Linked DNA regions of Homo sapiens: all the other regions are linked to region 3. Evidence: fine-mapped expression QTL. A gene starts in region 3. Each other region holds a variant in brackets. All regions are shown on one strand. Distances are from middle to middle. Region 1 overlaps MAP3K9 (mitogen-activated protein kinase kinase kinase 9). Region 2 has its middle 39 kb from the start of ADAM21. Region 3 holds the start of SYNJ2BP (synaptojanin 2 binding protein).

What was found. PIP is the estimated chance that this variant, and not a neighbour inherited with it, causes the effect.
Region 1: its variant is the best candidate, but not a certain one, in a credible set for the expression of SYNJ2BP in whole blood (TOPMed, PIP 0.61).
Region 2: its variant is the best candidate, but not a certain one, in a credible set for the expression of SYNJ2BP in breast (GTEx, PIP 0.84).

The regions. Positions count from the first base shown.
Region 1 is chr14:70,726,150-70,729,001 of GRCh38, reverse strand. MAP3K9 (mitogen-activated protein kinase kinase kinase 9) reads left to right here. Exons shown (of 12, transcript NM_001284230.2): 12 at 1-2,852. Among named protein-coding and RNA genes, the nearest start is that of LINC01269, 29 kb to the right of the region's middle. The variant G/A (reference allele first, on the strand shown) is at 1,566.
Region 2 is chr14:70,489,977-70,492,828 of GRCh38, reverse strand. No RefSeq gene overlaps it. Among named protein-coding and RNA genes, the nearest start is that of ADAM21, 39 kb to the right of the region's middle. The variant A/C (reference allele first, on the strand shown) is at 1,437.
Region 3 is chr14:70,415,599-70,418,098 of GRCh38, reverse strand. It overlaps SYNJ2BP (synaptojanin 2 binding protein), which reads left to right and starts at 1,009. Exons shown (of 4, transcript NM_018373.3): 1 at 1,009-1,199. The coding sequence starts at 1,136. It overlaps SYNJ2BP-COX16 (SYNJ2BP-COX16 readthrough), which reads left to right and starts at 1,009. Exons shown (of 5, transcript NM_001202549.2): 1 at 1,009-1,199. The coding sequence starts at 1,136. It overlaps LOC124903339 (a long non-coding RNA gene), which reads right to left and starts at 1,014. Exons shown (of 2, transcript XR_007064237.1): 1 at 911-1,014. RefSeq lists enhancers at 934-1,043, 23-1,222, 1,154-1,233.

The DNA.
Region 1 (2,852 bases), 310 kb before region 3:
AAAGCTTTCTCGTGTATGTCTTCTCCATGCCACTACTCTGAGGCCTCCTGTGTTATGTGTGAACAGTTGTCTTTATGTGGGAATGACGACTTGATTGGGAGTAGAGTCTCAAGGTCATTCCCCTCTTCCCTCAAGACTCTCTGAATGCTGCTCCACTGTCTTTTGTCTTGGAGGTCACTCAGCAGGTTCCTTGCATTTGCTGCCTGGATGTGCAGCTGGCAACAGTGATGAATTGGTCACTGCTCTTTCTCTATAACTGGGATAGATGTCCTGCCTTGGGGTCACTAAAGGGGTGACCTTGTTCCTTGCTTTATGAGCCCATTAGCACTTTGGTTCAAGGGGCCCACCAAGTCTTGGACGGGAAGGCGCTACTGGTTTTATTGCCCAAGGTTTTGTTATTGCTTCTCTTCTGTGTCCTTCTCTTTGTTCAGTGAAGCCAATATGTAAGATACTGTTTTTGTCCCCATTCCCCTACTCCTGAGCTAGGAGGAAAAAATGTGAATCTTACCAGCAGTTCCAGCCAACCAAGTGATTCTTCTTCATTCTTGATGGGGAGAAGTACATACAAAGTTTGTTCTGACAGGGCGCGGTGGCTCACGCCTGTAATCCCAGCGCTTTGGGAGGCAGAGGCAGGTGGATCACCTGAGGTCGGGAGTTCGAGACCAGCCTGACCAACATGGAGATATCCTGTCTCTACTAAAAATACAAAAAAATTAGCCAGGCATGGTGGCACGTGCCTGTAATCCCAGCTACTCGCAAGGCTGAGGCAGGAGAATCGCTTGAACCTGGGAGGCGGAGGTTGCAGTGAGCCAAGATTGCGCCATTGCACTCCAGCCTGGGCAACAAGAGAGAAACTCTGTCTCAAAAAAAAAAAAAAAAAAAAAAAAAGTCTGTTCTGTGGCCTCCTTCCCCCGGGCCCTCCATAACCTCAGGCTAAACCATGAGCACATCTGTATATCCTTGGCTCCACTAAATGGCCCTCTTGTGGCCCTCCAAACCATGCTGCCTATACACAGTGCTCTGTGGTATGAAGCAGAGATTTTTCCTTTGCTCATTTTTAACTTTTGCCATTGTGGTAGGTTGCAGCCATCTTTCTAGATGTAGTGTAACTGATGTAGTGTAACTGAATGATGGTCACCTGCCATTGAGTGAGAGGTTGAGTGCCATCCTTACTTGTCCACTGTGGGGAAAGATAAAGCAAGCCTGGGTCTTTGCTAAGGAAATAATTGTACCTGAAAGAAGCAAAAGCAGGGCTATCCAAAGGTGCTACTGTGAGCATCCATGAAGAAGGAACAGTTACCATCTCTCAGCTCCTACACACCTGGTCTCTGATGGGCCCCTGACTGCTGCACTCTCTCAGTGGGGCAAGGTTGGAGATGGGCTAAGGATCTGTATAGTAGTAGCAGGTCTCAGTGGCTTTCTATTCGCTCAGGTTCCCTTGTTCTGTGGTCCTGGTCGGGAGCAGGCCCTGGAGCTGTGGATGAAGCCACTTGAGTGGCAGTAGCCGGCCCCCCTTTCCTCTGCCTTCCCTTTGCACAAAGACACGTTCCTTCTGCTCTTGGCAG[G/A]TGCTAACTTCATGGAAGATGGTAATAGGAACAGATACTGCTCTCTGCCCCTGCTTCTTGGATTCTTCAGCTCCTACCGCTGATTCGGATTATCCCCTTTTGACCCTCTTGGGGATCCAGACTGCTGCCAGGAGGCTGAGTAGATACCTCAGTTATCTGTATGTTATTTCTGAGAGGCTTTGGCGGATCCTCTTCACTTGGCATCCTGTGGCATCCCTAGGGTCTGGTGGTAGCAGTAATAGCAACAATGATATCTTACATCTGGACAACTCAGAATAGTGCTAACTTTTCCTCCTGACCTTTGCAAAATGACATCATTTTCCTTGTACATTTGATACCCTTGCTAGTAGAGAAGGGGAAATGCTTAAAGATGAAAATTCAAGTGAAGAGAAATGAAAAAGTGGCTTGGACTAATTGCTGAGTGAGGCCACTGGGCTCAGAACTGAACAGGTTGGCTGCATTCCCCATTCTGCTTTTGCTGTGTGGCCATAGGCTTGTCTCTTTAGCCCCTCTCAGATTTCCTTCCTTTAAAAGCAATCATCACATGCTTTCCTCTCAAGGGAGTTGGGTGTATGTATCAGAGAAGGTCAGTGAAACACCATAGCTCCTTGCCAGCTCCTAGAGGAAGCTTCTTTCATCTATACAGGATGAATCGCTGAAGTTGAGAGTGTGGCTCTCATCACCTTTGCCTTGAGGGAACTTGCCTTTTCTTTCGTCCTTTGGCTTCTGGAAGAGGAGTGATTTGGAGGTGGTTGAGCATGACTAATGGGGGCCCTGGTCGGGCCCATGCCCTTCTGCCGCATTTATATAGCATCTGGTGTTGACAAGCATTCTTTCCTAATTCCCCCACTTAACTTGTCTGATGCTGTCTGCCAATGTCATCCTCACCACTTGTGTCTTACAGAGAAGGAAATGGGAGAGGGAGGTTGTGTCTTACAGAGAAGGAAATGAGAGAGGGAGGTTGGTAGCAACATCAGAGTGACAGTTGGCTGTCTCTCATTTCTTGGGGTCATCAGTCTGATTTGTTTAGAGCCTGGGATCATCCCAGTTCCTGGAAGAATCTTTGGAAAAGGGTCCCCTTGTTCTTGGGACATGTGTCATGGTCACTAAGCCCCCTTTCCCTCAGGCTACTGTTGCTCAGGGACACAATGAGATACCCCAAGGACATCTAGACCTGACTTTTCATGAACTCTCTTGCCTCTGTGGTCCCCACATTGGAGACCTCCCTCCCTCCTCCTTCCCTTGTGTGAAGGAGACACCTCCCGAGCAATCCTAACTCATCCAGCT
Region 2 (2,852 bases), 75 kb before region 3:
AGTGCAGTGGTGTGGTCTCAGCTCACTGCAACCTCCACCTCCTAGGCTCAAGCAATTATTGTGCCTCAGCCACCCAAGTAGTTGGGGTTACAGGCACGTGCCACCATGCCTGGCTAATTTTTTGTACTTTTAGTAGAGACAGGATTTCACCATGTTGGCCAGGTTGGTCTCGAACTCCTGGCCTCAAGTGATCCACCCACCTTGGCCTCTCAAAGTACTGGGATTACAAGCATGAACCACTATGCCTGGCCCATGGTTCAATCTTGTTCTCATAATAGTGAGTTCTCACAAGACTTGATGGTTTTATAAGTAGAAGCTTCCCCTGCTCTTGCATCTCTCACCTGCCCCCACGTAAGACGTGCTTGCTTCCCCTTCCCCTTCTGCCATGATTATAAGTTTCCTAAGGCCTCCTATCCATGCTTCCTATTAATCCTGCAGAACTGTGACTGAATTAAACCTCTTTCCTTTATAAATTACCCAGTCTCAGGTAGTATCTTTAAAGCAATGGGATAATGGACTAATACAGTAAATGGGTACTGGTAGAATAGGGTACTGCTATAAAGATAACCTGAAAGTGTGGAAGCAACTTTGGAACTGGGTAATGGGCAGAGGTTGGAACAGTTTGGAGAGCTCAGAAGAAGACAGGAAGATGTGGGAAAGTTTGGAGCTTCCTAGAGACTTACTGAATGGTTTTGACCAAAATGTTGATAGTGATATGTACAATGAAGTCCAGGTTGAGCTGGTCTCAGATGGAGATGAGGAACTTATGTTTAAAAGGAAATCAGAACATAAAAGTTTGGAAAATTTGCAGTCTGACCATGTGGTATAAAAGTAAAACCCATTTTCTGGAAAGAAAGTCAAGATGGCTGCAGAAATTTACATACGTAATGAGGAGCCAAATGTTAATAGCCAAGACAATGGGGAAAATGTCTCCAAGGCATGTCAGAAACCTACTGGGAAGCTTCTCCCGTCACAGGCCTGGAGGCCTAAGAGGGAAAAATGGTTTTGTGCGCCAGGCCAGGGACCTGCTGCTTTGTGCAGCCTCGGGACTTGGTGCTCCATGTCCCAGCCACTCCAGCCTTAGCAGTGGCTAAAAGGGGCCAAGGTATGGCTTAGCATTGCTTCAGAGGGTGCAAGCCCCAAGCCTTGGCAGTTTCCACATGGTGTTGGGCCTGTGGATGCACAGAAGGCAAGAGCTGAGGTTTGGGAACCTCCAACTATATTTTAGAGGATGTATGGAAATGCCTGGAAGTCCAGGCAGAAGTCTGCTGCAGGAGTGGAGCCCTCATGGAGAACCTCTGCTAGGTCAGTGCCGAAGAGAAATGTGGGGTTGCAGCCCCCATGCAGAGTCCCCACTGGGGCACTTCCTAGTGCAGCTGTGACAAGAGGGCCACCATCCTCCAGACCCCAGACCCACTGACAGCTTGCACTGTGTA[A/C]CTGAAAAAGCCACAGACACTCTGGGTTTTGAACTTGCATGGGTCTTGTAGCTCCTTTATTTTGGCCAATTTCTCTCATTTGGAATGGGAACATTTAACCAATGCCTGTACCCCAACTGTATCTTGGAAGTAACTAACTTGTTTTTGGTTTTACTAGATGAGACTATGGATTTGGACTTTTGAGTTAATGCTGGAATGAATTAAGACTTCGGAGTATTGTTGGGAAGGCATGATTGGTTTTGGAATGTTAGGACATGAGATTTGGGAAAGGACAGGGCAGAATGATATGGTTTGGCTCTGTGTCCCCACCCAAATCTTATCTTGAATTGTAATCCAAATTGTAATCCCCATGTGTTGAGGAAAGGACCTGGTGGGAGGTGACTGGATGATGGGGGTGGTTCCCCCATGCTTTTCTCATGATAGTGAGTTCTTACGAGATCTGATGGTTTTATAAGTAGACGTTTCCATGGCTCTCATGCTTCTTGCCTGCCACCATGTAAGATGTGCTTGCTTTCCCTTAGTCCTCCACCATGATTGTAAGTTTCCTGAGGCCTCCTAACCATGCTTCCTGCTAAGCCTGCAGAACTGTGAGTCAATTAAACCTCTTTCCTTTATAAATTACCTAGTCTCAGGTTGTATCTTTATAGTAGTGTGAGAATGGACTAATACAGATATGGACAGTGAAGTCTGGACTGAGGAGGTCTCAAATGGAGATGAGGAACTTATTGGGAACTGGGATAAAGGTCACTCTTGTTCTGCTTTAGCAAAGAGACTGGTGGCATTGTGCCCCTGCTCTAGAGACCTGTGGAACTTTGAACTTGACAGAGATGATTTACGTTATCTGGCAAAAGAAATTTTTTTTTATAAGACAGGGTCTCACTCTGTCACCCAGGCTAGCATGCAGTTGCGTGATCTCAGTCACTGCAACCTCTGCTTCCCAGGCTCAAGCAATTCTCCAGCCTCAGCCTCCCAAATAGCTGGGCCTACAGGTTCACACCATCACACAGAGCTAATTTTTATATTCTTTATAGAGAAAGGATTTTGCTGTGTTGCCCAGGCTGGTCTCAAACTCCTGAGCTCAAAGCGACCTACCCACCTTAGCCTCCCAAAATGCTGAGATTATAGGCATGAGCCACCGTGTCTGGCCAGGCGGAAGAAATTTCTAAGTAACAAAGCATTCAAGCTGTGGCCTGGCTGCTTCTAAAAGCTTATGCTCATTTGCATAAGCACTGAAATGAATTGAAACTTGAACTTATATTTAAAAGGAAGCAGAGCATGAAAGTGTGGAAAATTGCAGCCTGGCTATGTGGTAGAAAAGAAAAACTCATTTTCAGCGGAGGAATTTAAGCCCAAGCTGGCTGCAGAAATTTGCATAAGTAAAGAGGAGCCAAATGTTCATAGCCAAGACAATGGGGA
Region 3 (2,500 bases):
TAGTCCTCTAAGATCCCCACCAATCCCTGTGGTCTAACTCCAGGTTGCTTCACAAGGTTGTCACCTTCCTGGCTCTTTAGGCTTTTGTGTTTTTGACCCCTGAAGTTTCATTCAAGTTCAGTTTGGAATGTCTCATTCCAAAAGTCAGGAAGACTGGCCTAAAGTTATACCTAAGCCATGCGTTAACCTTATTGTAAGAGTTAAAACATTAAAAAGATTGAATTTTCCCAGTTGCCAAAAGAATGAGACATTCCCCCACCCCCCTTTCTTAAAACATTTTCTTGAGCAAATTGTAATTATAATCCGTGTGTAGTGTGTGTGTGTGTGTGTATCTTTTTAAAAGCTAAATAAGCCTCTTGTCAGATAAAACCCAGGAATTGTTTTCGTCAGGTCCCGGGAGCCAACTCCTTGAAATTTAAGTATCAAGGTAGACAGTGCCCCTATGTTCCAGGCTCGCGGGAGTTACCCGAAGCGCCTTGCTCCAAGCCGTAAGTACCTGTTTGTCACAGAGATAACGTTTTATTTTTCCTTTGGATAAAGGCAATTAACCAACACAGGCGGCCACTCCAACGGTGAACTACCAAAAATTGAATACCAAACCATGTTAACTCGTCTTACATGAGAAGATGCGTGTGCTTTGGCTACATAAAATGTGAGATTTTTGTCTCTCTTTGCAATCTCATTAGTGGATTGCCTGTAACACCCATTCCGGTCTGGTTCGATGCTTACAGAATAATACACCTTTTTTTTCTTTTCTACATTTGTGGAGATTTTCTAGGATGGCAGGAGATTTTTTTAAAATTTTTTTTCTCGACAATATCAATTTATTTAGGTCCCTTACTTTTACTAGCCACCCCCTTCCCACTTGCTTCCAATGGCAAATTAGAATGGTAACTTGCCCCTTGCTCACCTCATGCTTGGCTTTGGGAACCGGTGAGAAACTGCAATCCATTGGCGGTAGGAACCACGATTCCCAGCATTCCCAGTGCTCCGAGTCCTTCGGGCTTCCTTTTCCGGGTCTCGAGGCTGCTGAAACCGAAACCGCTGTGCTGTGGGCGCAGCGCCGAGATTGATTCACCTTCACCTGTGCTGCACTCCAGCTGACCCAAGTAGGAAGCCAGACGAGCTGTAAAACATGAACGGAAGAGTGGATTATTTGGTCACTGAGGAAGAGATCAATCTTACCAGAGGGCCCTCAGGTATGTGCGGAAAGGGTCATATCTGACAGTAGGGGATTAGAGGGTGTAATTGCAGACACCTCTGCTGCTGAGCCGGATTCACCTGGCCTCGGGGCGGGCAGGCCACAACCTAGAGGTTTCGTGCAACGCTTCGGGGTGCTTAGAGAAAATATATTGAAATCCATCATTAGCCAGATACGGGTCTGAGGAATCCACCTCAAAATCCAGTTGGATGAACACAAATATATATAGTCAAGAAGGGGTTCTTTGTGCAAATCGTGCTAGAAAAGCCTTTTTAAAAGCCTGCTTTTTTAGCCTGCTTATCGTGGATACCACATCCTTCTTTCCGTTGCCTGTTCTATCCCTCCCCCTATGAGGGACCGTTTAGTAAAATGGGAGCATAAACGGTGTGGACTCTGAATGCATAGCCGTTTTCCTGCAGCTAGGATCCCTCCCTCGCTCCTTTGATTTCTGGGAACTTCATTTACAATGTCAACTAGAATGTTAAAGCAGGAAGAGCCCTTAGAAATCTTTTATTACACAGGTTCCCAAACTTGGTTCCGCCACAAAATTACCCAGGGCTTTAAAAAAAAAAAAAAAAAAGAAAATAAAAAGTTAAATCTTATCTCCCATCTGCAGGGATTTGGATTTAATACAGATTTATTTTATTTATTTATTTATTTTTTATGAACACCTCATGTGATTTTGAGCAGCCAAACTGCTATCCTCTTCCCCCACTGTGGCTCTTCATTAAACCGGGCTCTTGACATTACTACATTCTGCCTGCTTTCGACTTTGTTTACTTTCCTTTACAACTATTTAGTTGATCAATTAAGAGCTCTTTAGCTTTGGAATTACAGTATCTGGGTCTAAATCTTGTATCTAACCTCTTACTGATTCTTGATACTTATTGGCTAACTTAACTGATGTAAGCCTTAGTTTATCATCTCTAAAATGGGGATGGTTATAAATATACTTCATAGTGTTGTGAGAATGAAATGAGTTAATCCATGTAAAATGTTTACAACATTGCTTGACCTATGGTAAACAGTATGTGTTTCCTACTATTGTTACTGTTAATGGATAAATAGCTAAACTGACACAGTAAATCCTACTAATACTGTATTCCAAGAGTCTCTAATAAATCATCAAGTACTCTGAGCTCCATCTCTGAAATGTTCCTGAAATTCTTTCACTCCTGTTTCCCTTGCCACTACCTAGGACAGTCCATCACCTTTTCTCATCTGCAGTTCTGCAGTAGCTTAATCATGGATAGATTATTCTTTATAAAATATAACTTTCAGAATTATCCATACTTTGTG